Linked DNA regions of Homo sapiens: region 2 is linked to region 1. A link means that fine-mapping ties the variant in region 1 to the plasma level of a protein whose gene starts in the linked region. Region 1 holds a variant in brackets. A gene starts in the other region. All regions are shown on their reverse strands. Region 1 overlaps BALR6 (B-cell acute lymphoblastic leukemia associated long RNA 6). Region 2 holds the start of CXCL6 (C-X-C motif chemokine ligand 6).

What was found. A credible set is the group of variants that fine-mapping cannot tell apart. PIP is the chance, under the fine-mapping model, that this variant and not a neighbour inherited with it causes the effect. Protein levels are from antibody-based Olink assays in UK Biobank. Linkage for the fine-mapping came from a reference panel and not from the study's own genotypes, which makes the PIPs less certain.
Region 2: CXCL6 starts here. The variant in region 1 is the best candidate, but not a certain one, in a credible set for the plasma level of the CXCL6 protein (UK Biobank, PIP 0.53).

Annotation. Positions count from the first base shown.
Region 1 is chr3:18,190,326-18,206,556 of GRCh38, reverse strand. The region is part of intron 4 of BALR6 (B-cell acute lymphoblastic leukemia associated long RNA 6); the gene reads right to left. It overlaps LOC124909351 (a long non-coding RNA gene), which reads right to left. Exons shown (of 2, transcript XR_007095842.1): 2 at 12,529-16,231. Among named protein-coding and RNA genes, the nearest start is that of SATB1, 230 kb to the left of the region's middle. The variant AG/G (reference allele first, on the strand shown) is at 9,265.
Region 2 is chr4:73,821,431-73,837,499 of GRCh38, reverse strand. It overlaps CXCL6 (C-X-C motif chemokine ligand 6), which reads right to left and starts at 822. Exons shown (of 4, transcript NM_002993.4): 1 at 641-822; 2 at 404-536; 3 at 214-297. The coding sequence starts at 749. RefSeq lists silencers at 554-848, 4,454-4,748.

The DNA of each region.
Region 1 (16,231 bases):
TAAACCAAAGATCACCTTCCGTAAAACATGGATAAGATAAAAAAATGCCTCCACCAAGATAGGTACAGCATTAGTCACTGTCGTTATCCAAAGAGAAGTCAACTCATTATGGTAAACCATATAAATCTTTGTCAGTGGCTTTGGTGCAAGAGTTACCCAAATCTGACTTTATTTCAGACAATGCATTACTATGAATAGCCAGATAGTGAACAGAACCTGGACAATTCTCTGCTCGTTAGGCTCATTCATTAATGAAGGATTGATATGGTACAATATTTGCTTTTAAATAGGCTGTTTTGTTGTGGTGGTAAAAATAAGAGTTGATGAGATGAAGCAGTAATCTAATACGTTAATGGAATACACTTTTTTTTCCCCAAATCAGTGAGAAATCTCTATTACAAAGTATTCTTTGTGGGTATGAATAAAAGCTGATCAAATGGTATTTCTAGTTCTAGATCCTTGAGGAATTGCCACACTGTCTTCCACAACGGTTGAACTAATTTACACTCCCACCAACAGTGTAAAAGCATTCCTATTTCTCCGCATCCTCTCCAGCATCTGTTGTTTTCTGACTTTTTAATGATCGCCACTCTAACTGGCGTGAGATGGTATCTCATTGTGGTTTTGATTTGCATTTACACACCAGGGTCTGTCAGGCGTTGAGGGGTAGGGGAGGGATAACATTAGGAGAAATACCTAATGTAGATGACAGGTTGATTCGTGCAGCAAACCGCCATGGCACGTGTATACCTATGTAACAAAACTGCACATTCTGCACGTGTACCCCAGAACTTAAAGTATAATTTTTTTAAAAAGCTGATCAATATGTGAACATTGAGATTTCTTTCCATAAATTGTGGATTTTGCAGAAATAATTGGTATATGCCTAAGTAGTATTTTTTACTCTGGCTTATAATTATTCCTTTTATTTTCCCATTCTTTCTTCATCAGTTTGATCATTTTTTTCTTCCTTTTGAGGCCCCAAAATACAGTTATAGAAAGTTTGTGAAAACCGCTTTATATGAGGAAATGGTTATATCTTCAATCACCAACAAAGAAATAAACAAAGGATTTGAGTGCTGGAAGAGCCATCATACATAATTCATTCAATATCTACTTGTCCATCAGTTATTTCCTAAAATTGAGAGAGAGCTTAAGTTTAATGTTTTGTTATCTCCCTCACTCTTCTTTAAGCACTAGGAACTTTCCATCCTTATAATTATTTCAAATATGCCACAACATTAATTACAATCAAACAGTTCTGTATCCTAATCAGATCTTGGACTCAGAGCACCCATAAAACTATTTTTCTTTGTATATGTAATAATATTCAGTTTGAACTATTCTTGGCTGAGGTCCCAAGACAATAAAGGTCACAATTCAAATCAAGTTGTGAGGTATCTATGCAGGACATGTAAAGGTAGTCTTTGATAACCAGTTTTTGCAATTCTTAGTTGAAGATCCACCTTTATACTACGAAAGAAATTTGGAGAAGATAAAAGGGTCAAATTAAAAGTTAATATTTTGGAGAGAGCTGCTGTGATGCTATGAATCCTACCTTGCCCTCAAAGTGGAGACCATAATGGGCAGGGAATGAGTTTTGAGGAAAATACTTGGAGAGTTTAAAATGAGTCCTTTGAGCCTTGCTGCCACAGTGGCTTTGTGTCCTCCCCATTCCTGAAAAATTTAACATAAGAGAGGCTGACTGGTAGTAGAACAAAGAAAGATGGGTGCGTTCGAGTCAGCCTGCATGCCCAGAGTTTTTGTCACTTAGGATTTGTATGTGTTCTATGCACCAGAAATGGGCTTCTTTGCAAAGAGAGTGCTGAAATAGGCACCATCTTAGGTGCTGTCCAAGAAGACTCTGCAGGCACAAAAAGACAGGAGAGAGAAGCTGTAAGTAAACCATGGGCTGCCCACAGACTGAAGAAGTAGTTTGGGATCAGCTGAATGCGTGCATTTACTCATGTCAAGGGAACTGATTGTATGATTTTGTATGGATTATCCCTAGAAAGCAGAGCCTGAGACAAGAGTTTGAATACAGATATGCTATTTTGTAAAGTGAATGAAAAGGAGTGGGAAACAGGCAAGAAATAAGAGGAATAGAGGAAAGCTTATGCAAGTGTGTTATTGAGCTAGGAGCAAGGTAGAATGTGTCTCAAAATTGTCTACATGACAGACTTCACATGTTCTCACTCATTTGTGGGACTAATGACTGAAACAATTGAACTCATGGAGATGGAGAGTAGAATGATAGTTACCAAAGGCTGAGAAGGGTAATGGGGTGGCAGGAGTGAGGATGGCTAATAGCTACAAAAATGTAGTTAGATAGAATGACTAAGATCTAGTATTTGATAGCACAATGGGGAGATTACAGTCAACTATAATTTATTGTACATTTAAAAATAACTAAAAGTATAATTGGAATGTTTGTAACGAAAAGAAATGATAAATACTTGAAGTGATGGATACTCAATTTACCCTGGTGTGATTATTATACATTGTATGCTTGTATCAAAATATCTCATATACCTCATAAATATATACACATACTATGTGCTCATAAAAATCAAAAATTAAAATTTTTAAAAATGTCCACTTTCTTCCTGAGAGACAGGGAAAAAAAGCATTTATCTATGGGGCAGCAACTCCCTCATACTTGCCTGTGTGTTTCAAATGGGTTCCCAGAGGTGTCATACACAGTAGCATCAGAAAATCCACACTGCAGAAAGAAAGAAATGTATGGTGCACCAGAGATAAGATGCAACCAGTTACTTCTGAACTCTGTGGTTCTCAGAGCAGTGACTGAAGCAAAAGGTCATTAGTCAAGAAGATGGGAGGTAAGGCATATGAGGTGTCTGATACATACGATATCTTCAAAGAATTCAAAAAAGTATTGTCAAAGAATGTGTCAGATTTTAAACTTGACAAACCCAAAGAGAGTGGAATCTAGACAATCATACAGGTATTTGTCAAGCTCCTGCTGCTTTCCTCTAAGCCCTTCTCTCTTCTTATAACTATGTTACAATACTAATTATTATTATATTTAAGTTATATGTTATAATAACAACAATTATTATAACAGTGGACTGAAGATGTTAAACAGCTGTTATTCCTTTAAAGGAATAGTAGATAAAAAATGAAGTAACTTTATGATTACATCCACCATGGTATTTCTGTTAATAAAAAAAAAAAGCAGTTAAACAACTGCATATGGAATAAAGTTGTGGCTTTGGCCCTGCCATTGGTTATAAGTTTATGCATCTGTGGAAGTCTGCTTTTTCATGTGTGGAGGATAAATCAGAGAAAGGACAAGAATCCTTCTTGTATTTGATGGATTTGTTTTAGTATAATGAATGCCTGGGAATTTTCAAAACCATGACCCCATGCTGCTATGGACACCACCATTCCACTGAGTGAAGACTGTTTCCATATAGCCTTATATAGCTCTAGGAAGCACAGTCCCAGAAGCTGCTATTTAGTGGAGAAAAATATTAGGGATTAATGCTGGGAACATTTGCTACCATCCTCCACGATTTATTCAGACAATGCCTTATATCCCATTTATTGCAGGTATCACCAGATGCTGAGCCTATGGAATTAAAATAGAGGTCTCCTAAAAAAGAAGAAGAATCAGACTGGCATCAGATGATCCAGAAAAAATGGAGGGAGAAGACAACAGAGCAAGACCTTCAAAGTTATGAAAGGACTACTATATCCAGTCAAACTGTCAATTAAATAAGAAAACAAAAATAACCTATTTTGAGACATGTGAAAACTGCAGAGGTTTACCTCTCATGCAGCCCTTTCCATAAATTTTTTTGAGGATATACTCCAGTAAAATAAAGAGGAAGATGTAGATTGTACAAAATCATAGATCTACCATAACTCAGAAAAGATGCCTCTGATCACCCATTCTAGGTCAATTCTGACCTTTCTTTATTACACCACCTTGGTCATTTCCTTCTTAGGCTTATAAAAATCTATATTTATTTCCTGTAAGTTTATTTAAAATGTATTTCTTAACTTGCTTATTCTTGGCCTCACCCATTAGAAGGTAAGCTCCATAAAAGGTGACTATGCTGTATCAAGGAATCTTGTATAGTGTCTGGTATTTAGGTAACAGACAATAAATATTAAAGAATGAATAGCATATCTCTATTTTTTAACTTGAGTTAAACCAAACTCCATAGGTGAGACTTCTAAGAGCCTTTAAAATGCTTTTTGAATTTTCATAATGGAGGCATAGTAAGAATTATAGCCTAAACATAGAATCCTGGTAGCATCTTAGATGGTGGTTAATGCTTTGTGTAACACACTCTGGCACTTTTAAAATTGTAAATCAGTTTAATTTTTATCACAAATGTCCAACACTTTTCTCTTATGAAGAAGTAAGAGTCATAAATCAATTGAGAGATTTCTCCCAGTACCTGTGTTTTTGTGTGTGTGTGTGTGTGTTTTTCCTTAAGAGTTGGGGCCCGGCACAGTGGCTCATGCCTGTAATCCCAGCACTTTGGGAGGCCAAGGTGGGTGGATTACCTGAGGTCAGGAGTTCGAGACCAGCCTGCTTAACATGATGAAACCCCGTCTCTACTAAAAATACAAAAATTAGCTAGGTGTAGTGGCGGGCGCCTGTAATCCCAGCTACTCAGGAGGCCGAGCCAGGAGAATCGCTTGAATCTGGGAGGTGGAGCTTGCAGTGAGCCGAGATCACGCCATTGCACTCCAGCCTGGGTGACAGAGTGAGACTCCATCTCAAAAAAAAAAAAAAAGAGTTGGAAGGTTCCTTTAGTATTACCTCAACTGACCACCACAACTACATTGAGACATGTGTTGAGAGGTAAACTTACTTTTTTGAAATAGATAATCTTCATAAGGTTGATTTTCTTTTTGTAATTTGGTGACCCACTCAATTTCTAACTTATTAGACAAGGACAACATGTGGGGGTCACCTCTCTGCCCTTCACACCACAGAGCACAGCTGCAACACAAGGATACACAAAGGAGCCTATCTACCACCCATTGCTCTCAAGTGTTATCTACTGGAATGCAGTCCAAACTACAACACCAAAAACACTTTGCTAATTTCCCCCCACTGAGAAACTAATATGGTTTTGTTGTGTCCTCACCCAAATCTCATCTTAAATTGTAGTTCCCAAAATCCCCATGTGTCATGGGAGGGACCTGGTGGGAGGTAATTGAATCATGGGGGCAATTATCCTAATGCTGTTCTAGTGATAGTGAGTTAGTTCTTACAAGATTTGATGGTTTTATAACAGGCTTTCCCCGCTTCGCTCGGCATTTCTCTCTTCTGCTGCCACATGAAGAAAGACATGTTTGCTTCCCCTTCTGCCATAATTGTAAGTTTCCTGAGGCCTCCCCAGCCATATGGAACTGTGAGTCACTTAAATGTCTTTCCTTTATAAATTACCCAGTCTCGAGTATGTCCTTATAGCAGCATGGGAATGGACTAATACAGAAACCAAAGATAAGAATTTAATATAAAAAAACCCTCTACAGAGACTTACCCCTCTGAAAACCTCCAGAACAGAATGCACTAACTATACTCAATATACACCACAGTTCAAGGAACACCAGCCTTCTCATATGAGAAAGAATTAATGCAAGAACTGTAGCAATTCAAAAAGCTGGAGTGTCCCCTCACCTCCAAACAAGCCCACTAGCTCCCAGCAATGGTTATTAGCCGGTCTGAAATGGCAGACATCGAATTCAGAATCTGAATAGCAAGGAAGCTCATCAAGATCCAGGAGACAGCTCAAACCCAATCCAAGGAAGCCAAACAATCCAGTGAAATGATTCAAGAGCTGAAAGATGAAATAGTACTTATAAGACAGACCTAAAATAAGCTTCTTGAGCTGAAACATTCACTACGAGTATTTCATAATACAATTGGAAGTATTCACAACAGAATAAACCAAGCTGAGGGAAGAATCTCAGAGCCCAAAGACTGGTTCTTTGAATCAACTCAGTCTGACACAAATTTTTTAAAAAATTAATGAACAAAACCTCTGAGAAATATGAAATTATGTAAAGAAAGCAAATCTATAATTTATGGGAATCCCTGAGACAGAAGGAGAGAAAATAAGCAACTTGGAAAATATATTTAAGGTTATAGTCCAGGAAAATTTCCTAAATCTTATTAGAGAGGTTAATAGGCAAATTCACGAAATATAGAGAACTCTGGCTAGATAATACACAAGAAAATGATCTCTGAGGCACACAGTCATCAGATTTACCAAGGTCAATGCAAAAGAAAAAAAATCTTAAAAGCAGCCAGGGAGAAGGGTCAGGTCATGTACAGAGGGAATTCAATCAGGATGGCAGTAGACCTCTCAATAGAAACCTTACAAGATGGAAGATATTGAGGCCCATTTTCAGCATCCTTAAAGATAATTCCAATCAAGAATTTCAAACCCTGCCAAAGTAAGTTTCATAAGTGAAGGAGAAATAAAATCCTTTTCAGACAAGCAAATGCTGAGAGAATTCATTTCAACTAGACCAGCCTTACAAGAGGTCCATCAGAGAGTGCTGAACATGGAATCAAAAGAATAACACCTGCTACCACAAATACTCACTTAAGCACATAGCCCACAGACACTACATAACCATAGCAACTGCATAACCAAGTCTACATAACAACCAGCTAATGACACAATCTCATATCTCATACCATAAAATATGATCTCAAAATCTCATATCAAAATCTCAATCTCAAAATCTCATATCAATACTAACCCTGAATGTAAATGGTCTAAATGCCCCCTTAAAAGACATAGGGTGGCTAGCTGGATAAAAAGATAAGACCCAATCATCTGCTGTTTTCAAGAGACCCATCTCATATGTAATGACATCCACAGGGTCAAAGAATTGGAGAAAGATCTACCATACAAATGGGGGAAAAAAGAACAGGAGTCACTATTCTTACATTAAATAAAGCAGACTTTAAACAAATGGGAAACAAAAAAAAGCAGGTGTCACTATTCTTACATTAGATAAAACAGACATTAAACCTTTAACAATTAAGAAAGATGAAGAAGGCATTACGTAATGATAATGAGTACAATCTCAAAAGAAGACTTAACCATAGTAAATATATGCACCCAACATTGGAGCGCCTAGATTAAAAAAAGTTCTTGACCTATGAAAAGGTTTACATAGCTGCATACAACTACAGAATATACATTCTTCTCATCCACATGTGGAACATATTCTAAGATCAACCACAAAAGCAAGTCTCAATACATTTAAAAAATTGAAATCATACCAAGTACACTCTCAGAGCGGAGTGCAACAAAAACAAAAATCAATATCAAGATGATTTCTCAAAAGTACACAAATAAATGGAAATTAAACAACTTACTCTTCATTTCAATAGCTTTTGGGGTACAGGTGATCTTTTGTTATATAGATAAGTTCTGTAGTGATGCTTTCTGGAATGTTGGTGCACCTGTCACCTGAGCAGTGTACACTGTACCCAATACGCAGTTTTTTATCCCTCACCCCACTCCTACTCTTCCACCCTTATGAATCCCTAGGAAATACTCATCTCAACATTTGTCTCAGCAAAGAATATTTGGCTAAGCCCCCAAAAGCAATTGCAACAAAAATAAAAATACACAAGTGGGATCTAATTAAAGTAAAGATCTTCTGCACAGCAAAAGAAATTATCAAGAAGTAAACAGACAACCTACAAAAGGGAGAAGATATTCACTGTGTGAATATCTTGATATTGAACTATGTGTTCAACAATGGCCTAATATCCAGACTCTATAGAAAACTTAAAGGAAACAACAAGTAAACAATAAATAACCCCATTAAAATAACCCCATTAAAGTCTACTATATCAGTCTTATTCCTTTGCATCCTCATAGCTTAGCTCCCGCCTATAATTGAGAACACACAATATTTGGTTTTCCATTCCTGAGTTCCTTCATTTAGAATAATGGCCACCAGCTCCATCCAAGCTGCTGCAAAAGACATTATTTCATATATATATATATAATATTTTTTATCCACTCATTGGTTGATGTTCACTAAGGTTGGTTCCATACTTTCCAATTGTGAGTTGTGCTGCTATAAACATGCGTGTGCATGTGTTTTTTTCATATAATGACTTCTTTTCTTTTGGGTAGATACCCAGTAGTGGGATTGCTGGGCCAAATGGTAGTTCCACTTTTAATTCTTTAATGACTCTCTGTACTGTTTTCCATAGTGGTTGTACTAGTTTACATTCCCGCCAGCAGTGTAAAGTGTTCCCTTTTCACCACAGCCATGCCAACATCTAATTTTTTTTTTTTTTTTTTTTGCTTTTAAATTATGGTCATTCTTGCAGGAGTAAGGTGATATTTCATTGTAGTTTTAATTTGCATTTCCCTGATAATTAGTGATGTTGAGCATTTTTTCATGGCACTGGTACAAAAACAGACACATAGACCAATAGAACAGAATAGAAACCCCATAAATAAAGCTACACACCTACAACTATTGGATCTTTGACAAGGCCAAAAAAGCAAATAGAGAAAGAACTCCCTAAATAAATGGTGCTCAGATAACTGGCTAGCCATATGCAGAAGATTGCAGCTGAAACCCTACCTTTCACCATATACAAAATTAACTCAAAATGGACCAGAGATTTAAATGTAAGACCTCAAACTATGAAAATTCTAGAAGGCAAGCTAGGAAATACTCATCTCAACATTTGTCTTGGCAAAGAATTTTTGGCTAAGCCCCCAAAAGCAATTGCAACAAAAATAAAAATACACAAGTGGGATCTAATTAAAGTAAAGATATTCTGCACAGCAAAAGAAATTATCAAGAAGTAAACAGACAACCTACAAAAAGGGAGAAGATATTCACAAACTATGTGTTCAACAATGGCCTAATATCCAGACTCTATAGAAAACAACAAGTAAAAAATAAACAACCCCATTAAAAAATGAGCAAAGGACATGAACAGACAGTTCTAAAAAGAAGACATACAAGCTGCCAGTGAGCATGCAAAAATGCTCAGCATCGCTAATCATCATAGAAATGTAAATCAAAACCACAATGAGATACTATCTCATACTTGTCAGAATAGCCATTATTAAAGAGTCAAAAAACACAGATGCTGGCAAGACCACAGAGAAAAGGAAACACGTATACAATGTTAGTGGGTATTGTCCAGCCACTGTGGAAAGCAGCCTGGAGATTTCTCAAAGAACTCAAAACAGAGCTACCATTCAACTCAGCAATCCCATTGCT[AG/G]GTATATATCCAAGGAAAAATAGATCATTCTACCAAAAAGACACATGCATTCATATGTTCTTCACACATTATTCACAATAGCAAAGACACGGAATCAACCCAGTGCCCACCAATGGCAGTCTGGACAAAGAACATGTAGTACATATACACCATGAAATACTACCTAGCCATAAAAAATAATGAAATTAAATCCTTTGCAGCAACATAGGTGCAGTTGGAGACCATAATCCTAAGTGAATTAATGCAGGAATAGAAAACTAAATACCACACTTTCTTACTTACAACTGGGAGCTAAACATTGAGCATACATGGAGATAAACAAGGGAACAATAGAAACTGGGGACTATTATATGGGAAAGGAGAGGGGCATGGGTTGAAAAACAATCTGTTGGGTGCTATGCTCACAACTTGGATGACAGGATTGTACCCCATACTTCAGCATCATGCAATATTCCCATGTAACAAACCTGCACGTGTACCCCCTGTATCTAAAATAAAAGTTGATATTTTAAAAAAATACAAAAACAGACTAAGAAATCTGGAAAAATAAATATATAAATAAAATGTAAAGTAAAGAAAAATGCTTCATTTAAAAAATCAACTAAATACAAAAGCAGACAGTAATGCAGAAAGCACATGACAAAAAAGCTATAAGGTACATAGAAAACAATTAGCAAAATCAAATAAATAAGTCTTTTTTATGAGTAATTACTTTAAATGTAAATGGATTAAACTCTCTACTCTAAAGACAGAGATTGGAGGAATAGATTTTAAAATATATGATCCAACTATTTGCTATCTGCAAAGGATTCACTTTAGATCTAAATACACAAATAGGTTGAAAATGAAAGGATGGAAAGAGATGCTTTATGCAAATAATAGACACAAGAGACCATGGGTAACTATACTACTTTCAGACAAAATAGACTTTAAATTTTATACAAGATTGCAAGACACAACAAAAGGCATTATATATTAATGTTTGCTAGTACAGCTAGACAGAAGATAAGTAAGAAAACAGAGGACTTGAACACCACCACAAACTAACTAGATGTAACAGACATATACAGAAATCTCTATCCAACAACAGTAGAATGTACATTCTGCTCAAGGGCAAGTGGAACATTTCCTAGGATGGGCTATATTTTGGGCCCTAAATTAAGTCCCAATAGAGCTATAAAGATAGATATTATACAAAGTATCTTCTTTGACCACAACAGGATGAAGTTAGAAACCAATAACAAAAGGAAAATTGCAAAGTTGACACATTTGTGGAAATTAGAGAAATAAATAATGGTTACCAGCATCTGAGAAGGGTAGGAGAGTGGGGGGATAGAGAGAGGTTGCTTAATGTGTACAAAATTACAGTTAGAGCAGAGAAATAAATTCTAGTGTTCTATAGCATAGTAAGGTGATTATAGCTAACAACAATTTATTGTATATTTCAAAATAGCTAAAAGACAGGAATTAGAATACTCCCAACACAAAGAAATAATAAATGTTTGAGCTGATAGACATCCCAGCTGCCCTGATTTGATTGCCACATTTGTAAACATGTATTGAAATATTACATGTATCCCATAAATAGATGTAATATTAGATATCAATTAAAAATTAAAAATAAGTTTAACAAAACAAAAATAATAAGTATTGCCAAGAGTGTGAAGAAGTTGGGGAACCCCTATGAATTATCAGTGGGAATGTAAAATGATATAACCACTGTAGAAAATTAAAAATAAAATAAGAAATATGAGTCAGCAATTCCACTTCTGAGTACATATTCAAAAGAATTGAAATCAGAGTCTGGAAGATATATTCATACACACATGTTCATAGCTGCATTATTCATGATTAGCTGAAGTGTAAGCAACCCAAGTGTCCACTGAGGAATGAAGGGATAAGTACAATGTGGTATACATATATCATATTAGTCAGGGTTCTCCAGAGAAACAAAACCAAGAGGATATACATAAAGGAAGAGATTTATTATGAATAATTGACTTACACAGTTATGGAGGCTGAGATGTCACACAACCTGCTTTCTGCAAGCCAGAGAGCAGACAAGCCAATATTGTAACTCCAGACTGAGTCTGAAGGTCTGAAAACCAAGGGAGTGAATGGCATCAATTCCAGCGAAAGGACAGAAGAAAACTGATGTCCCAGCTCAACAGGTAGGCAGGAAGCAAAAAGGGGTAAATTTCTTCTTCCTCTGCTTTTTGCTCCACTCAGGTCCTCAGTGGATTGGATGACACCCAACTGGGGAGGGCGCTCTACTTTATTAAATCCACCCATTCAAAGGCTAAACTCATCTGAAAACACCCTCACAGATACATCCAGATATAATGTTTAATTTGGGCACCCTTTGGCCCAATCAAGTTCACACATAGAATTAACCATCACACATACAATGGAACATTATTTTAGCCCTCAAAATGAAGGTAATTCTGACAAATGCTACGACATGATTGAACCTTGCAGACATTATGTGAAGTGAAATAAGCCAGTCACAAAAAGACAAATACTATATGATTCCACTTACATGAAGTACTGAGAGTACTTAAAATCGTAGAGACAGAAAGTAGAGTGGCCATTGTAGGGGCCAGGGGGAGGGGAAATGGGGAGTTATTTTTGCATGGGTGTAGGGTTTCAGTTTTGCAAGACGCAAAGAGTTCTGGAGACGGATGTGGTGATGGTTGCACAACAACATGAATGTACTTAATACTATTGAACTGTGCACTTAAAAGTAGATAAGATAATAAATTTTATGTTACGTGTGTTTTACCATAATAAAAAATTGGGAAAATCAGATTAAACACACCTTTAAAAAGAAAATAATCATTCTCCAAGTAAAGAAAATAATCACTCTCCAATAGGGTCCAGTCAAAACTACCAGTGGAACCACGAAGCCAACCCACAGAATGAGAAATAATAAATAAGATATACTTTTTGAAGATATTAAGTTGGGGCTGGTGGATGTTTGTATGGCAAAAGATAACTGAAACAATTGCTGATTTCTAGAGAGGGAAACTGGGTGGATAGAGGACAAAAATTAGGACATAGTTTTACTTCTCACTTCATGATTTCTTTGTAACTTTTGACATTCAACCATTTTTATATATTACCTTTTTTAAAAAAACTAATTTTATTTTAAATTTTAAAAAATGTTATTTTGCAAAGCAACAAAAAGAACATATAAATGTTCCCCTAGGAAATTGTTTTAATTATCTATTCCTAGTGCTGCTAAAAAGGTAGAGACAGAGAGAAATTTTTCAGAAATATTTTATTACATGAAATTTGAATCAATTTTCTTTAAGACATGTGTGTCCTTTGATCTAGCAATTTCTTGTCAAGAAATTCATCTTAAAGAAATTATCTAAGCTTTGACTAAGTGTATTTACCCAAATGCACTTATAACTCCTTTACAATAGCTAAAAATAAAAATTTTTTTAAATCTAAATGCTAAACAATAATAGGTTAATTACTTGATTGTTACTTCCATATAGTGGAATACTATGCAGCCATTCTAAATCATATGGTGAAACCTCACTTATTCACTTGAACTAATTATGGTATATTGTTAAGTTTTAAAACATAATAAAATGATATATATCACATTATACCACAACTCAGAGAGCCATAAACCACTGGCTATATATGCTGCATGAAAACATAATAGACTTACCAGACAAAAAAGAGTTTCCTTTAGACATTCAAAGATTTCTACATTTAGAATGAATTATTTTATAATAAGAATATGTATTTTATATATAGTAAACAGATATTTAGTCCTGCATATAAACTATGCCAACATAATAAAAGTGACTTGCTTGAATTTAATAAAGTGGGGAAACAATTTATATAAATAATAAAAATGAAATTTTTAATTTTTTAATTCAACTATTATGCATCCTGAAAAGTCCTCAACACACACATTCATGACTATGGTATATGGTTATGTATGCATATATATATATCCATACATTTATTCAATACACAAGGCATATGTCAAAATATTCATTATTAAATAATGTTTAAAATAATTTTACTCCTAAAGCCATTGCTACATCATGCTTCTTAGATTTAAGCTATGAGTGAGACCTGTAAGTCAAGAACAAGGGCAGGAATTCTTAGCAAGTAAGTTTATAGGCTTTTCTAACATCACTGCTCACCTACATGGCAGCCATTCTTTCTTTTTTCCTCCATAACAGAATCCCTCTTCTATTCAAGTACTAGATATCCTTGTGCTTCAGAAGGCTGTCCAATGGAATGAACAACCCCAGGCCCAAAAGATGAATACTGATCCATTTAAGACAATCATGGTAATTTTATTCCTGTTGTCAGTTATTAGTTTAAGAATAAACGCTTGACAAAAGTTCTTGCCAGAGACACATGAGTGAAGTCTAATAAGAGAGCTTTAGGAGAAGACTTTCTTGTTCTCAGAGATGGACCCAAGGAAGGGTCACATTCCTTTTCCCTCTTCTAGCCTTTCAGGGTTGTTGCCTATTGTGATGGCCACCACCTTGTGACCGTGAAGTGTAGCTGATATATTGAGGATGAAAGAATGGAAAGATGGAAGGAAGCTAGGTCCCTAATCACATTATTGAATTCTTACATTATTAAGCTCTGGAAATTTCTTACCTTTGAACTTCCTACCAACCGAGAGAATATTTTTTCCTTATTTTTTAAGTCACAGTGGGTTGGAGCTTCTGTTAAATGCAGGTGAGAGCACTCTGACTGATACAACCTCTAATAGAATCTATACCTCATTTAACAACTTTAACTTTTCCTAAAGTCTTGCTGCTGTGTTTAAGTAAAATAATACTCTTATGAATTTTAATGAGGAAAATTATGGTGCATTCCATCCCAACCCAATGCATTCAAATAATTTCACAGATTGAAAAATCTATCAATCAAACAATGAGAACAAGTTCATATAAGTAACAATATAATAGTAAACAAACATAGCTTGTACACAATATAAAGATAATGAAGGTTTATTGTACTCATCAAGGGTGATAATCAGTGGCAGTTATTGGAAAGAGATGTAAAGTTGTTAGAGGTAGCATCCCCTGAAACAGAGATTAGCATGCCAAAAGTGTGTTAAGGAGTGGCCTCAAGATCAGTATACTGTGAAATGGAAGAAAAGAAAGCAAGATTGGGCAGAGTGGTCTCAACAAAGTCCTCAGCCAACTCCATTCATAGCTCTGACGTTGGGGCAGCCTTTCCAAATTGTTCTGAATTGAAATGAAGAAGCCAGAATTTTACAGGCTCACTTTAACCAGTTGTGGGATTCGGGCTGCCCCCTGAAAATGCCACGGTAGTTCTCTTAAACTTAGGGCAATTCCCAGAGAGGACTGCACCTTGAAAGCTGTCAATGGATTGTACTTCTAAATACTGAGTAATAATCCTTTGGTACTAAAAGGAAACCTAGTCTGTGTATCACCACATCAGCTCTACAGTGGAGCCTTTTTTGGAAGGTAGTGGAAAGGCAGGTGACTGATTTTCATGTGCACAATCAATATTAGAATCATACAGCCTTGTCTTTTTCTTTAAAGCTTTGACCAAAAAAGGTAAAGTTGACTTTTGAAATACACAGAAATAGCATCATGGAAATGCTGCTACATCTTCCTCCCTTTTACTTGGCTTACATATACAATGCAAAACCTGGGGACTCATTCAAGCATGACATGAAATTCAAATTTGTTTCACATGATATTCTTTGATTAGAAGCTATTGTGTTGAGTAAATTAGAAGTATGTCCTTGCCTGAAATAATAATGTGAAAAATGATTTCTTATGGTATGTGTTACCTAGTGGATTTGGGGAATTAAATGTCATTATACAAAAAAAATTGTTTGATAAATAGCATAAGTTTTCAAGTGTGGTTATAGTTAAAATTCATTAAATGAACAATTGTTATATGCAGTAAGCTTATGTATAATATATCCTAACCACGTATCCATAAAACGTACCTCCCAATTGTCAGGTAATTGAATTTTCTTTACTTTTCTACAGTTGTCCATAAATCATTACTCACTTTCATGCTGATGGTATTAAAGGTACAGAGGAAGGCACTGCCTTGAAAATGTTCACTTTAGTTGACCATTTATAGAGTTGTCATTCTGTGGGATTTTTAAGCAGCATAGATACATTCAAATATAACACCATTAGGGTCAGTCTGTGACAAAACCCATATCTTTATATTATCTTGATACTAAACATTGTAAATACTCCCAAATTATCTAAAAAGAGGGCCATGCAAGGCCAACAAAAGGATTTTTTTTAAAAGAGTCACTTACCTAGCCACAAATATCTCTCTTCTGCTATCACAGACATAGGCTCTGGGTGAACCACTATACCCAAAATGCTTCCCAGAAGCAGACTCTGCTGGTGACCTACCCACTTCTTGACATAGATCAAATGGTAACTCTTCTGTGGGAAAGGGCTGGCTGAGACAGCAACATGAAGACCAGAGTCTAGACACCAAGATTGTAAAGAATGTTGGAAAGAGAGAATTTACATAACAGCCCTGTAACCCAAAAGATCCTGTCTCTCTTTCATAAGACATAGTCAAGCTCATTATGGAAGCAACCTCCAGCAGCTAATTGGTATTGCAGTGCTTCTGAGCTGTGAGCTAAAAAAGGAGGGAGATGTAAAAGACAAATAAAGTGACATAAAGAAATTCCCATCCTGGTCCTATCATTGTCTTGTGAGCTATTTCTATACTGTATGTACATAAACAGCTCTTCTTGGGTGGTGGTTTAATGTCTCTATACCTTCCATTGCAATTACACTGAATGGAGCTGCAACAAATCTTCGTAACGCCAATCTCATCTTTCCACCTCATTGACAGCTCAGGAAATGCATCTGAAATTCATAGTAGCCTCATAGCCTATGGCAAGAGAAATCCATGCTGCTAAAATTTTATTTTAGAATTCAAGCTGGTTTTCCTCAGTTTAGGATGCTC
Region 2 (16,069 bases), not on the chromosome of region 1:
TGTCAGTAATGAGCTCTGTGTAATTGTTCAGGCATGTAAGATTGGTGATAAAGGTTTACCCAGAACATTCCAGAAAAAAAGTTTCCTTATTCTTCTTAACAACCTTATAATTCTAAGCATAGTCTAAATCCTACAGAGAGAATAAGGACATTGTGAAGTATATGCTTTCCATAGAAGATATTAAAACACCACAAAGATCAAAGGGACAAATACCTGTCCAAAATTTTCTGGATGACTTTCTTTAGAAAAGGGGCTTCCGGGTCCAGACAAACTTGCTTCCCGTTCTTCAGGGAGGCTCTGAAGTAAAGAAAAAGAGGATGCACCCATGAGCCACAAAGGTTGACGACCCAGGCTGGAGGACTTGCCTAAGTCACAGTGGACACAGCAACACAGGAGAACTTACACCACTTCCACCTTGGAGCACTGCGGGCCTGCGGGGAACACCTGCAGTTTACCAATCGTTTTGGGGTTTACTCTCAGCGTAACGCGTAAACAAGTGCAACGCAGCTCTGTCAGCACAGCAGAGACAGGACCAGCTGGGGAAGAAAGACATTTTTATAGGGCAGGTTGCTGGGAGAGTTCCCTGGAACGCAGCGGCCCCGCAGAGGCTGGGATGCACCCCAGTGCCAGGAGCTCTCACCGCTGGCGAGGGGCCCCGGCGGCGTCAGCAGGAGCAGCAGCGCGAGCAGCGCGCACAAGGAGCCCGAAGGACCCGGGACACGGGCCGCGCGGCTGGACGGGAGGCTCATAGTGGTCAAGAGAGGGTTCGCGGGTTCCTGAGCTGGGTGGAGGCGCGGAGACTGGAGGATACAGAGCACTTTGGTTTCCTCGTGCCTTCTGCACTCCCTTTATCTGCATTCATCCCTCCCGACTGGCAGGAAACTCAAGCTTTGGGATGCTGGGGAAATTCCCTGAACTCAGGGGGCAGTGTGGAAAGAAGGGGTTGGTGGAGGGGGGCGGGAGGATGGGAATTGGTGGGGTGGGTGGCTGGGAGGAGCTGCCTGCTCCCTTAAGGGGGAGGACATTTTAGCCCCGCCCCGCGGTGGAGGGAGCTGTGGCTCCAGCCAAAATAGAGCAGCGATTCAGCAGGGTCTCATCCCCTGGGCTTGAGGGGTTAGCGAGGCTGGCTTCTCTGAGGCACGCAGCTGTCTGGGAGATGCTCCTCCTCTCCAATGGCCAGGACAATTAGGCAGGAGAAGGAAATAAAGGGTATTCAATTAGGAAAAGAGGAAGTCAAATTGTCCCTATTTGCAAATTACATAATTGTATATCTAGAAAACCCCATGGTCTCAGCCCAAAATCTCCTTAAGCTGATAAGCAACTTCAGCAAAGTCTCAGGATACAAAATCAATGCACAAAAATCACAAGCATTCTTATACACCAATAACAAACAAACAGAGACATGGTCTCAGCCCAAAATCTCCTTAAGCTGATAAGCAACTTCAGCAAAGTCTCAGGATACAAAATCAATGCACAAAAATCACAAGCATTCTTATACACCAATAACAAACAAACAGAGAGCCAAATCATGAGTGAACTCCCATTCACAATTGCTTCAAAGAGAATAAAATACCTAGGAATCCAACTTACAAGGGACATGAAGGACCTCTTCAAGGAGAACTACAAACCACTGCTCAATGAAATAAAAGAGGATACAAACAAATGGAAGAATATTCCATGCTCATGGGTAGGAAAAATCAATATCGTGAATATGGCCATACTGCCCAAGGTAACTTATAGATTCAATACCATCCCCATCAAGCTACCAATGACTTTCTTCACAGAATTGGAAAAAACTACTTGAAAGTTCATATGGAACCAAAAAAGAGCCCGCATGGCCAAGTCAATCCTAAGCCAAAAGAACCAAGCTGGAGGCATCACGCTACCTGACTTCAAACTATACTACAAGGCTACAGTAACCAAAACAGCATGGTACTGGTACCAAAACAGAGATATAGATCAATGGAACAGAACAGAGCCCTCAGAAATAATGCCGCATATCTACAACTATCTGATCTTTGACAAACCTGAGAAAAACAAGCAATAGGGAAAGGATTCCCTATTTAATAAATGGTGCTGGGAAAACTGGCTAGCCATATGTAGAAAGCTGAAACTGGATCCCTTCCTTACACCTTATACAAAAATTAATTCAAGATGGATTAAAGACTTAAACGTTAGACCTGAAACCATAAAAACCCTAGAAGAAAACCTAGGCATTACCCATTCAGGACATAGGCATGGGCAAGGTCTTCATGTATAAAACACCAAAAGCAATGGCAACAAAAGCCAAAATTGACAAATGGGATCTAATTAAACTCAAGAGCTTCTGCACAGCAAAAGAAACTACCATCAGAGTGAACAGGCAACCTACAAAATGGGAGAAAATTTTCGCGACCTACTCATCTGACAAAGGGCTAATATCCAGAACCTACAATGAACTCAAACAAATTTACAACAAAAAAACAAACAACCCCATCAAAAAGTGGATGAAGGACATGAACAGACACTTCTCAAGACATTTATGCAGCCAAAAAACACATGAAACAATGCTCACCATCACTGGCCATCAGAGAAATGCAAATCAAAACCACAATGAGATACCATCTCACACCAGTTAGAATGGCAATCATTAAAAAGTCAGGAAACAACAGGTGCTGGAGAGGATGTGGAGAAATGGGAACACTTTTACACTGTTGGTGGGACTGTAAACTAGTTCAACCAGTGTGGAAGTCAGTGTGGCGATTCCTCAGGGATCTAGAACTACAAATACCATTTGACCCAGCCGTCCCATTACTGGGTATATACCCAAAGGACTATAAATCATGCTGCTATAAAGACACATGCACACGAATGTTTATTGCAGCACTATTCACAATAGCAAAGACTTGGAACCAACCCAAATGTCCAACAATGATAGACTGGATTAAGAAAATGTGGCACATATACACCATGGAATACTATGCAGCCATAAAAAAGGATGAGTTCATGTCCTTTGTAGGGACGTGGATGAAATTGGAAATCATCATTCTCAGTAAACTATCGCAAGGACAAAAAACCAAACACCGCATGTTCTCACTCATAGGTGGGAATTGAACAAGGAGAACACATGGACACAGGAAGGGGAACATCACACTCTGGGGACTGTTGTGGGCTGGGGGGAGGGGGGAGGGATAGCATTAGGAGATGTACCTAATGCTAAATGACGAGTTAATGGGTGCAGCACACCAGCATGGCACATGTATAGATATGTAACTAACCTGCACATTGTGCACATGTACCCTAAAACTTAAAGTATAATAATAATAAAATTAAAAAAAAGAGAGAAAAGTTGGAACCATAGTAGTGGAAGCTTTGACTTGAGAAAAATTTCTGAAAGTCAATCCTTTCTAATTATTATTACTATTATTCAGGAAATGTTATTCATGATTATTGCCCTAAACTGAGAGTCCTTCCTCTTCTTGCAGGCAGGTCATTCTAGGTTTCTTGAATGACTTTTTGATTATCTGGATTTCAAACAGCTTTAGAAGCCAAGATAACGTGATGAAAGAGGCTCTATCCCCACCTGAAGTCAACAAGTTGCCTGAATTGGCCCCAAAGTGAAATCTGTTTATTAGAAATTGTATACTTGTAGTTTAGCAAGCATATGTGTGTTGAGGCAGTTTAATAAACAAAAATATCTTCAAACAAAAATCACCCAGCAAATTGCCATGGAAGATAAAATGTACTTTTGGCGGTTGCTATGCTATTGAATTGGAAGAGGTTTTGGTCTTATTGGGAGTGAAGTGTAGTATGGTGAGCATAGACTGAAGTTTGCCAGGGAGCCCGGGCCTGCCCCAGCTCTGGTCCCACCCCCAGGTGTGTTTTTGACACCATTTGGAGATGCTGTAGGAGGTTGATGAATTTGAGGGGCTCATGTGAAAGCTTCTTCTAGAGATTTGCATCAATTGGGCAGCATAATAGCACCCAGTCTGTTTTCCCCCAAACAACCTCATGGGGGGAGGAATTCTCCCCATAGGCTTCTGGAACCATCTAATTTCATGATTACTGGTGACCAAGGCTGTTTCTGCAGACCTGTTCTAGTCCCCAGTGAGCCCTGCACTGCCTCCTGAAATTGAAGGGTGAAGTAGCTTCCAGCTTCTCCCTCTCTCCTTCTTTGTTATCCGTGGAGGAGTTAAAGCACTGAAGGTTTAAGTGTCTTCCACCGTCTTGCTCCATGGCAGGCATGAGTACGGCACTGGAATGGCACATAGACTTTCTTTCACAGAAGTCTAACTAGATCCTCTTCTGGCTGGTTCTGAAGAACTTTGTCCTCAGTGCAGGCCAGCAAAGGTCATCAGTAAACATGACGGCATTGAGAAGCCAGTTATGGAACACAACTCTTTTCCTTGTCCCTTGTGACACTGGGGAATTTTATTAACTTCCTCTCCTGTCACCTCCATTGGTGAGCAAGAAAGAGGTGTCACAGACCTTTACAATTTTGATTCTGGAAGGAAACAAGAAATTCATTGGCTGAGGAAGGCTGGGTGGTTTGGCCTTCAGTTTGTGGGAAGCTAAATGAGAAGTTCTCACAGCTTCCTGACACCATCAACATCATACCTGACTCAGCAAATGGAATCCTTCATCTTTTTGGGGAGTGGTAATCTGTAGAAAACAGCCTGCAGATTTAGCATATTGACATTTTAAAGATTAGAATGTGTCTAAAGACAAAAGATAAGCCTTGCTGAAATGGCTAAGACAAAACTTCAAAAATGTGACTCAGCTCCTAGGCAATTAATTCAACTTAACCACAGGGAATAAACCACAGTATAAGGCTTTGTTTAAAAAAAAGTTTAGAGATGACATAGGTTATTGACTTTTAAACTCTCTCTCCCTGTCTGTATGTGGGTTAGTTCTGAATAAGCCATTTTAAACATAAATGAACATATGAATTTGTTTTTGGCACCAAATGGTAAAATCAGAGAGGAATCATGAGACAAGATTGCCAGTTCCTCCTGATGGTCTTATAAGTACACATGTCTTACCTGCTTTGCACTCTGAATCAATTCACAAAGGATTATTTATAGAATGTAAGAAGAAAAAATATTTCTGCAGTTGATAAGCAAGTAATAGAAAGTCCCCAATAAAAGTGAGTTGTTGGGTTACCCAACCTAATCAGGAAGCAATGTGTCGCTTTTCCTGGCTTCCCATGAAAATCAGCCTGGGTCATTGTCCATGTCTGGCTTCTATCTAGGCATTCTCTGATGTTGGCCTTGTAAAAATACAGGAGGGAACATGAATGATGCAAAGATCCCCTGAGGTTAAGATGGAAAGCATGAAGAACTACGACAGACATAGGACTTTAAAAGTCATTGCTCCCTTTTCACTAGTTTAAAGGAAAACCATTTGTGTTACCTGCACTGTGTCCAGCTGGTAGAGAAAAGCTCTGTGTTATTTTTGTTCCCAACAATAAGGGAAAAATTCTTCCAATGCCATTTGCATCCTGATGGCCTGAAAAGTTTACTCCCTGTCAAAATCAATCCTATTTTAGTCATTGTACCACAGATTAATATAATATGAATGAAAACATTCCAAAGAGTTTGTGGCGTTCAAAACACTTTTATGCTCATTATTTCTTGAGCTTCACATTTATTCTTTGAGGCTGATTAAAAAAAAAAAAATCTCTCTCCCAGAGAATGAGTTAAGTAATAGAAAATCCAGAATTGGCAGTTAAACACCAGAGAACGTGCCCCAGTAATTTTTAATAGTTTCCAGATTACAAACCACTTTCTTCACAGTTGCTGGCAAACACCCCACAGTGGCTTTCCACAATCTGGGTAACCACTTTATTATATTTCCCAGAAACCACATTTTAAGTTATTGAGAACCTCAATCCATTCACTCCTATCTTTGGGACCACAGTAATATCAAGGGTAAAAGAGACTTCCAACATATTCAACTTGAAACCACTTTCTATATCCCTCACTTTCTTCAAGGCAAATTCAAAGTCCTGTCTTTGAAAAAGCTTATTCTGACAAAGCCAGAATAGAGTATTCCTTCCACCTTTGCTCTTCGAACATCTAGTGTACTTACAATAACCACTGCATGAGGCAGAGTTTAATTACTCCTTAATTTTACTTTTATCTCCCTCAAGTCAACTACGAACTCCTTAAAATCAGTGACGATATCTTACATTTCTCACACAACCTCACATAATTTCTTAGTTCAACAGCGAACAGTCTATGAGCACTTGGTGATGGATAATGATAACAACTTTTTAATTTTACGGTGTTCTTTACCTTACAAGTAGATCTTAAAGAGAAAAGAATGGGGCTGTTTATTGTCATTAACTCCTGTATTTTTTTAAACTTTACAATTTTGAATTGGCTGCCTCCTATGTGGGAAATTATTTCTGGGTTATTCTTAGGGAAAGTTAGAATGATATCAACGATATTTTCTGTCTTTGAATTCAAACTGTTCAAAAGAATGTTCAGAATCCGGCAAGGCACTTGATATTAAAAGAAAAAATACATATAACTAATGTATTAACCAAATTACATAGTTTTTGTGACATAGAGATTGTTGGAGATAAATGACAATGGAAAAATCTGATTACATTACACTGCGTTGAATGTTAACAGTGTGTGTATGTCATTCTAAATTGATTTTTTCTAACTAGAGAAGCCTTTAATTATATGATTTAGTATTTGGCTTAGGTTAGGCCTTTTCAAATGTTTTTTCCAAGATTTTATTTTTTATATTCACCATTCTTTGTATTACCTTTAAGAAATGCTATATAATTGCAATAATTATTATCAGGTTAAGCATATCAAGTGTTTCAGTATAAGGAAGGCAATAAGAGTTTAAGTGGAGGATAGAGTAACTTGCATGTATGCAAAGAAAAAGGAAAAAACACCAGCAACTGCTGAGTTTACTTTGCAATGTGAATGCAGTCTGTCTCCTAAATTGAGCTGGTAGTCCAATGAAGAAGTACTATCATCCAGGGAATGACTTTGCTCCAGGGTTGCTTCACCTTTGCTTTGAAATGCCAGGAATATTTTTCTTCCTTTTGCCAATTATCTAATTTTCCTTGCTGCTCATTTCAGATTATATCTGTTTGAGGACTAAATCAATGAACCTTGACTTAGTCTGTACTGAGCTAGATTTCAAATAATCATAGCTGGGCTTCTCTTCCCCACCTCTTGTGTGGATGGGGCAGCTAGTTATCTGTTGTCCAACTGTGCAAACGTTAGAAAAGTTTTTGTTGACAACAAGAGTTGCTACATAGGATAAAAAAAGATAAGAATTAAAGTTTTAAATGTTTCTAAAAGCCTTAAGTTTTTCAGAAACAGGAAGTCTTCATTGCTTTCTTCAAAAATTTCTTCTGGGCTAAGGAAAGATATATATATATATATATATATATATGTATGTATATTTTAATGTTAGATATTTTAAATAACTTTGAGAAGGCATTTCTATACTACAAAAGTCTTTTATGTAAGTTAGATTTCTAATACTGTGCTAAATAATGCTTGTTTGATATATAATTTCTGATCAACATTACCTTCATAACTTGTATTTTTCAGCAGATACTGTCTTCTGTATTACTTCATAATATATTTAATTCTCATTTAATATATAGTAGAACCTCAGGATTGCCGTTTTAATAGGAATAATTGTAATATATTTGTATATGTGTGATTTTTGTATTTCCTAGACATTCAAAACCGTCTTTTTCCTTCCTTGTCACTGCTTGAAAAAATAGGGAAGACCTAACATTTGACAAGTATCCCAGGCAATGTTCATGAACTTAAAAGACAAACACACAAGTACACCACCACTACCACCAGTGCCCTCACCACATCGACAAAACAAAGATCAAAAGAAAAAAATAAGAAAAAAATATGTCTTAGAGTTGATTTTTTGCCACTAATTCATTAAATCTCATTATGAATTTCCAGTGAATAACTATTTTCATGCATATTTTAAATGTTATTTTTTAGTATAAGAATTGGGAATTAGGAAATTGCTCACACTGACATAAAAGGTGTTGCAATGCCAAGCCAAAAGTCACAAAATCCTAGAAATTCTGGCTAATGTTGGACTATAAGTTTCTTACTAGCATTTTGGGATTTTAAAGCGTGACTTCCTCTGAAGAGTAAATTGACCAAATTGCTTTAACAAAATATTTTACTTTGAATCATTTTGATTTCCAAAAATTGCAGTATTAGTAAATCAGACAGGAAGTTATTTTCTTTGGAACACAATATATTTCTGACGTTAGAAACAGTTTTGACTTTTTTTCCCTAACTTGAATTTGAGACCAGACTGATGAATGCTATGACCGGGAGGGATTATGTCATAGAACAGGAAAACATGTGGTGGCTCATGTATTAGAAATAGACCACAATGTTGCTGTGCACAAGACCGTTCTTTGTAGTAAATGGAAGTTGTGAAAGTTTTGTATTGAACTATATCCAGCCAGCTTTCTGTGATGGTTTGAAAAAAAATTGCTTAAATTCAGGCATATACAGATTGAAAATCAAAGAATGGAAAGAAAAACACCATGCAACCAGTACCATATGAAGTCTAGAGTGGCCTTATAAATATTCAGCAAAACAGACTGCAAGAAAACAAGTATTATCAGAGATACATAAGCACATTTCATAATGATAAATGGTCAATAAATAAAAAAAATTATAAATTTATACATGCTTACTAAATAAGCTTCAAATTACATGAAACAAAACTACCAATTAGAACTTACAACAGGTATTATCTTCAATCACAGTTAGAAATTTTAATACCGTTAAGTAACTAATAGAAGTAGACAAAAATATTAATTAATGTACAAATGATTTGAATAACACTTGATCTACTTCAAAAAGAGCAAGACAATTATTTCTAGTCTCAGTATTTCAACTCTATTTTATGCTAATGGTTATAGGCAGTGAAGTAAGTTTTAAAAAAGAAATAAAGACATAAAAATGAAAAAGGAAGAAATAAAACTGTCCTTATTTGCAGATAAAATTGTCATTAATACAGAAAACTAAAAATAAATTATAAAATATACTGAACCAATAAGTGAATTTAATAAAATTTGAAGATAAAAAGACAATATGTAAAAGTCTACTTTATTTCTGTGTTATACCAGCAAAATATTTGAAAATAGAATTTTTAAAATACCATTTACCATAGCATCAGAATTATAAAACACTTAAGAATAAATTGAACAAAAGATGAACAAGAATTCTATGCTGTATATCACAAGGCTGCAAAAAAAAAAGATAAAAAGACTGAAGCAAATAACAAAGTGTCAATATCATGTTTATAAATTAGAAAACTCAAAATTGCTAAGCTGATAATTCTCCCCAAGTCAGTGTGCACATTCAATGCAACGTTAAATAAAAATCACATTAAGCTGTTTTTGAGAAATTGATACATCACTTATACCATTTATATGAATAAGCAAAGACTTATAACAGCTCAATTTTGAAAAAGAAGAACAAAGAGAAACCACACTATCTGATTTCAAGGCACAATATAAAACACATTAACAAGGACAGTTGGAGTAAGGAGAGACAGAGAGACCCATGAAACCAATTAAAGTACAGGAACAGATACAGATATGCCATCTGTTGAATTTTCATAATGGTTCCTAGGAAATTCAATGAACAGTAATATTTTGAAAGAAAATTATTTTTTTCCCGAGCAGTAGGTCTCAACAGTGGGCTCAAAATATTCAATAAGCCATGCTGTAAACTGTTGTCAAAAGAGTTTTACCATTTCATACTCCCACCCACAAAGGAAGTGTGCCCTGACTACTCCATATCATCATCATCATTCTTTTTAAAATTGTAGCTACTGGTAGGCATTTAGTAGTATCCCATTAAGCTTTTAATTATTATTTCATGATTACTAATGATGTTGAACACCTTTAAGGATGCTTGCTTGCCATTTGTAAATCTCCCTTGTAAAGTGTATTTTCAATTCTTTTGCTCATTGAGAATGCACATAGTCATGTAAGAATTCTGATGGAGATGTACAAAGAAATTAATGTTGCCTTTATGCCTGTGAACACAAAATCTATTCTGCAGCCCATGGATCAAAAAGTAATTTTGACTTTCAAATAGTATTATTTAAGACATACGTTTTGTAAGGCTGTAGCTGCCAGAGATAGTGATTCTTTTGATGGATCTGGGAAAAATAAATTGAAAAATTTTGGGTAAGGATTCATCATTCTAAGTACTGTTAACATTTGTGATTCATAGAAGGAAGTCAAAATGTCAACATTAACAGGAGTTTGGAAGAAGTTGATTTCAACCTTCATGGATAGTTTTAAGAAGTTCAATACTTCAATGGAGGAAATAACTGCAGATGTGGTAGAAATAGTAAGACAATTAGAAGTGGAGCCCGAAGATGTGACTGAATGCTACAATGTCATCACAAAACTTGAATAAATGAAGAATTACTTCTTATGGATGAACAAAGAGTGGTTTCTTGAAATGGAATCTACTCCTGGTGAAAATGCTGTGATGATTGTTGAAATGATAACAAAGGATACGGAGTATTACATCATAAATTTTGTTGATAAAGCAACATCAGGAATTGAAAGGATTGACTCCAATTTTGGAAGAGGTTCTGCTGTGGATAAAATGCTGCCAAACAACATAATGTGCTATAGAGAAATCTTTTGTGAAAGGAAGAGTCAATCAATGCCACAAATCTCATTGCTGACTTCTTTTAAGAAATTGCCACAGCCACCTCAACCATCAGCAGCCAACTTCCTGATCAGTGAGCAGCCATCAACATTGAGGCAAGACTCTCCACCAGGAAAAGTATTATGACGTGGTGAAGGCTTAAACAATTGTTAGCAGTTTTTAGTAATAAAGTATTTTAAAGTTAAGGGATTCTTATTTTGTAGACACAATGCCATAGCACACTTAATAGACTACAGTATCATGTAAACACAACTTTTATATGCACAGGGAAACAAAAAAATTTTGCGACTCACTTTATTTTGATATTCATTTTCTTGCAGTGGTCTGGAACCAAACCCACAATATATCTGCAATGTTCCTGTAAATAAGTAGGGCCTCGAGAAAGGGATTGTCCATGTGTCATATTTTGGAAAAAAAGTTGAGCAAGATTTAAATAAATAGGTAGTTATGATTACTTCTTCATCCTCAATGAGTGACATGCTGAATGCTGCTAAGGGTAGATATTCAATGGTGGCAACAAGAAAGCATTATAATTTTAGTGCTCCTTTAAATGGAAGTGGATTATTTGCTAGTTTTAGGTTAGGTGCTATGTGGCACTGTGGGAGTAACAAGTTGATAGAATATGCTGACTCTGCTGCTGTGGGTACGCAGGAGGAAAACACATTAGTTAGTATTTCAAAATATGATCCTGTTCTGTAAGCCTGTCCCAAAATTACAATAACTGACTCCAATAATCCATCGACTTTGATTCCAGTATTGACAACGTGTTTCACAAAGTTTAATTAAATCATTTTTGTTTTATATTCAATTGGCAGTCTCACATTTGCATTTGATGTCTTCTTCCATTTTGGGCCAATCAATTAATCAATCAGTCAATCTAACCTGGACTCACATTAGTTTTCTGGGGCAAAATTAATTCTGGTTTATCTACAAAATTTTTTTTTTCTGGAATAACTCAGTTTTTACCCTTCTGAAGTGTTTTCTATTGTTCTCTCCTATCCTCTGTTATGGTTCAGATTCTTTCACTGTGAATTTCTGTAAGAACATTCTTTAATGAAAAAGTTCTGCATACTTTTTGCCATCATGTGATTTATAGTACACTATGAAGTTACCGTGAGTAGGACTGCCAACTCCCTGTTCCTCCAACTGTCTTTAGCTAGACTCTGGTAAAGGCACAGGTAAGAGAGGAAGTCATTAGTTTATGCTTGCAAAGTGCTGGGGACATGTTCTCTCAGATTACATATGCGGTTACTTTCCTCAGAGCAAAGAATTCTGGCATTTTGAAATACGAAATGTTATATTTTTTTTTAAATCTGTAAACTCTCATTCTTCTTATCCTGATATAAGAAATTTTCTAAGCCTCAAAATTGATATTATGATGTAAGCTAAAAAAAACTGTGGAATCAACCAAGGTCAGCCCAGGATCTTTAATCAAGTAGGTACCAAAACCTTAAATCACAGCCTCCTTGTACCCTGCCTACAAAGTATGAGAAGTTAAAAGGACTCTATCTAATTGAAAAGCAAATTCTGAAATAAGAGACCCAGAGTAGCTAAAACAATCTTTAAAAAGGAGTAATTTGCAAGACTCATACTTCTCAATTTCAAAATTGCTACATAGCTACAACAATCAAGGCTGTGTAGTACTGGCCTACGGTGGACAATATATACCAATGCAATAGAATTGAGTCCAGAAATAAAACCATAAGTTTATGATCAGTTGGTGTTCAACAAGGGTGCCAAGATAAATAAATGGGAGAAAGAATAGTCTTTTAAATAAATAATGCTGGGCAATCATATATCAATATACAAAAGAGTGAAGTTGGACCACTACTTCACACCATACACAAAATTGGACTCAAAATACATCAGCAACCTAAATATAAGTGCTAAAACTATAAAACTCTTAGGAAAAAAGTTAGGCTTTGATCTTTGTGATCTTGTATTAGATAATTATTTCTTAGATATGACACTAACAACCAAATAACAAATTGGACTTCATTAAAATTTTAAAAAGTTGTGTATCAAAGGACATTAACAAGAAAGTGAAAAGACAGCCCATGAAATGGGAGATAATATTTTCAAATTATATACATGGTAAGCACCTAGTATCCAGAATGTATAAAGAAGTCTTACAGTGCAGTGACACAAAGACAAATAACGCTATTAAAATTGGGAAAAGTATTAAAATATACATCTCTTCAAAGAAAATATACAAATGACCAGGAAGTATGAGAAAAAATGTTCAACATCAATATTAACTAATGTATTCTTCATTGTGCTTAGGGAAATATAAATCAAAACCACAACGAGATAATATAAAGTGTTTCAAGGATGTGGAAAAATTAGAACCCTCATACATTACTGGTGGAAATGTAAATAACGCAGCAGTTTTGGGAAACAGTTAACAATTACTTAAAATGTTAAACATAGAGCTTCTATATGACCCAGCAATCTCACTTTAAGGAATACAACAAAAAGAATTGGAAATATATGTCAATACAAAAACATACTTATGAAAGCTCATAGCAACATTATTTGTAATAGCCGAAAAGTAGGAACAACCAAATGTCCACAATTGAAAAATGGATAATCAGAATGTGGTATAAGAGTTCTTTATATTATTACAATGGAATATTATCCAGCATAAAAGTACTGATTTATGTTACAACATGGATGGGCCTTATGCTAATTTCATTCAGCACAAAGAAAACATTATGCAAAGTAAAAGAAGCTAGATACAAAAAGCTGTTTTGGATGATTCCACTTAAATAAAATGTTCAGAATAGGCAAATCAATTGGACAGGAAAACTAGTGGTTGCCAGGGTCTTGACAAGGGAGGAATGGGGAGTGACTGGTAATGGGTGTGGCTTTGGGGGATGCTTATAATATTCTGGAATTAGATAATAGTGATGATTACACAACTTTGTGAACATTTTTTGAAAACCACTAAAGTGAGCACTTTAAAAGGGTGAATTTTACAGCAGGTGAGTGTAATCTCAATGAAAAAATAATTCCTGGGTGGTGTCCCAGGACCACTACTAAATTAGGATGAGAGAGTGAGGTTGTTAGGAATCTGTATTTTAACAAGCTCTCTAGGAGATTTTTCTTTTGCACACTAATGTTTGAAAAGCATTTCTTTAAAGCATTAAAAAGAGTCTGTCTGACAAATGCTTAGAATGTTCTTACTGGCCTGTTTTTCTCATCAAGCCTTCAGAATATACTTCTGCAGTGCTTCATAAGTCTATAATATAATAATAGTAATGATAACAATAATAAGGTATACCATATCTGTTGTTATGGTTTGTCCCTGTGTCCCCACCCAAATCTCATCTTGAATAGTAATCCCCACATGTGGAGGGAGGGACCTGGTGGGAGGTGATTGAATAATGGGGTGAGGAGGGTTCCTAGGGCAGGGGTGGTTTCCCCCATGCTGCTCTTGTGATAGTGAGCAAGTTCTCACAAGAGCTGATGGCTTTAAGTGTGGCACTTCTCTCTCTGTTTCTCTCTCCCCACTGCTGCTATGTAAGATGTGTCTTGCTTCCCCTTGGCCTTCTGCCACAATTTTAAGTTTCCTAAGGGCTTCCAGCCATAGAGAACTGTGAATCAATTAGACCTCTTTTCTTTATAAATTACCCAGTTTGGGGCAATCCTTTATAGCAGTGTGGAAATGGATTAATATATGTGTCAAGAAAATTTTTAAGAAGTCATACAAGCATCCAGATCACAGCACCTCATGTTTCCCAATTTCTTTCTGCTGATTCAATGCCACATAAAGTCTTTTATTTTGTCTTAGTCAGCTCTTCTGTTCCCTTCAGCACAAATTTGAACCTTCCCTGGTTTAGTCTTTTCAATTCCTCTCTCTCTCTATCTCTCTCTCTCCCTCCCTCCCTCCCTCCCCTTTCTCCCTCTTCTTCTCCCTCTCTATGTCACTCTTTATCATTGTCTGGTAGAAACTTTCTCAATTAATTTCTCCCTGCCTTGCAGAATGACTCTTCATTTGCACCTAGCTTTCTCTATTTTCATTTTATTCATTCAAATACCCAATTTCTATTTACGGAGAATCTTCATTGTGTTAGTGCTCAAGATACATGATGAACAGAGCAGTACAGGACCTTGTCCTCATGGGACTCTCCTCATTTGCTAGTGGGAGAAGTAAAAATAAAACAGTCAAAGAAACAATATAGAGACTATGGTAGATCTATGAGTCAGAGTAACATCACCACTTGATCAAAAAGATCATGGGCTGGGAATGCTTAGCTTAGAACAATGGTCACTAAGAAGGTGAAATTTTAAGCTGACACCAGAAGAATAGAAATGATACACACCTGCAAAGAGCATAGAAATGAGGGTTCCAGGCAGAACACACGGCAGGACAAAAGTCAGAAGCAGGACGAGTTTGCTATGTTTTCATAACTAAGAGTAGCAGCTGATGGCTGGAACTTAGAAAGGGGGAAAATGACATGAGTGAGATCACAGAGGTCATCAGGGACATGGTCATGCAGAAATTTCTAGGCCAAGATGCAGAGTTTATAACTTATTTTATTTGCAGTAGAAAGCAATTCAAGGATGTTATGTTACAAGAAGGTATGATCTGTTTTTTTTTTTGTTTTTGTTTTTGTTTTTTTTTAATCTGACTTCTGTGTGGAAATGTCGTAGTGTCAACTTTGGATTAAGAAACTCAAGTTAGGCTGGGCATGGTGGCTCACGCCTGTAATCCCAGCACTTGAGGAGGCCGAGGTGGGCTGATCACCTGACGTCAGGAGTTCAAGACCAGCCTGGCCAACATGGCGAAACTCCGTCTCTACTAAAAATATAAAAATTAGCCGGGCATGGTGATGTGTGCCTGTAATCCCAGCTACTCAAGAGGCTGAGACGGGAGAATCACTTGAACCCAGGAGGCGGAGGTTACAGTGAGCTGAGATAGCACCACTGCACTCCAACCTGGGTGACAGAGCAAGATTCCATCTCAAGAAAGAAAAAAGAAAAAGAAAGAAAAAGAAACTCAAGTTAGAGGGCAACTCCAACAATCTTGGTGAAAGCTAAGCAAACTATCAGGATGGTCTAAGTCTGGTCTGCCACATGTCTGTAAATAAAGCTTTAGCAAAACACGGCTGCAATGATTTGCACACATTTTACATATGGCTACTTTCACACTGTAATGACGGTGTTGAATAATTGTGAAAGAAACTGTATATCCTGCAAAACAACAACAAAATTACTTTCTGGTCCTTTACGGAAAGTTTGGCAACCCTTGTTCTGGATGAAAAATTATGACGGATTGGGCTAGGATGATATCTATTGAGACATAGAGATGATGAAAGAGTCTCTATATATTTCACAGTTACAACCTCCAGGACATTCTGAAGAGTTTG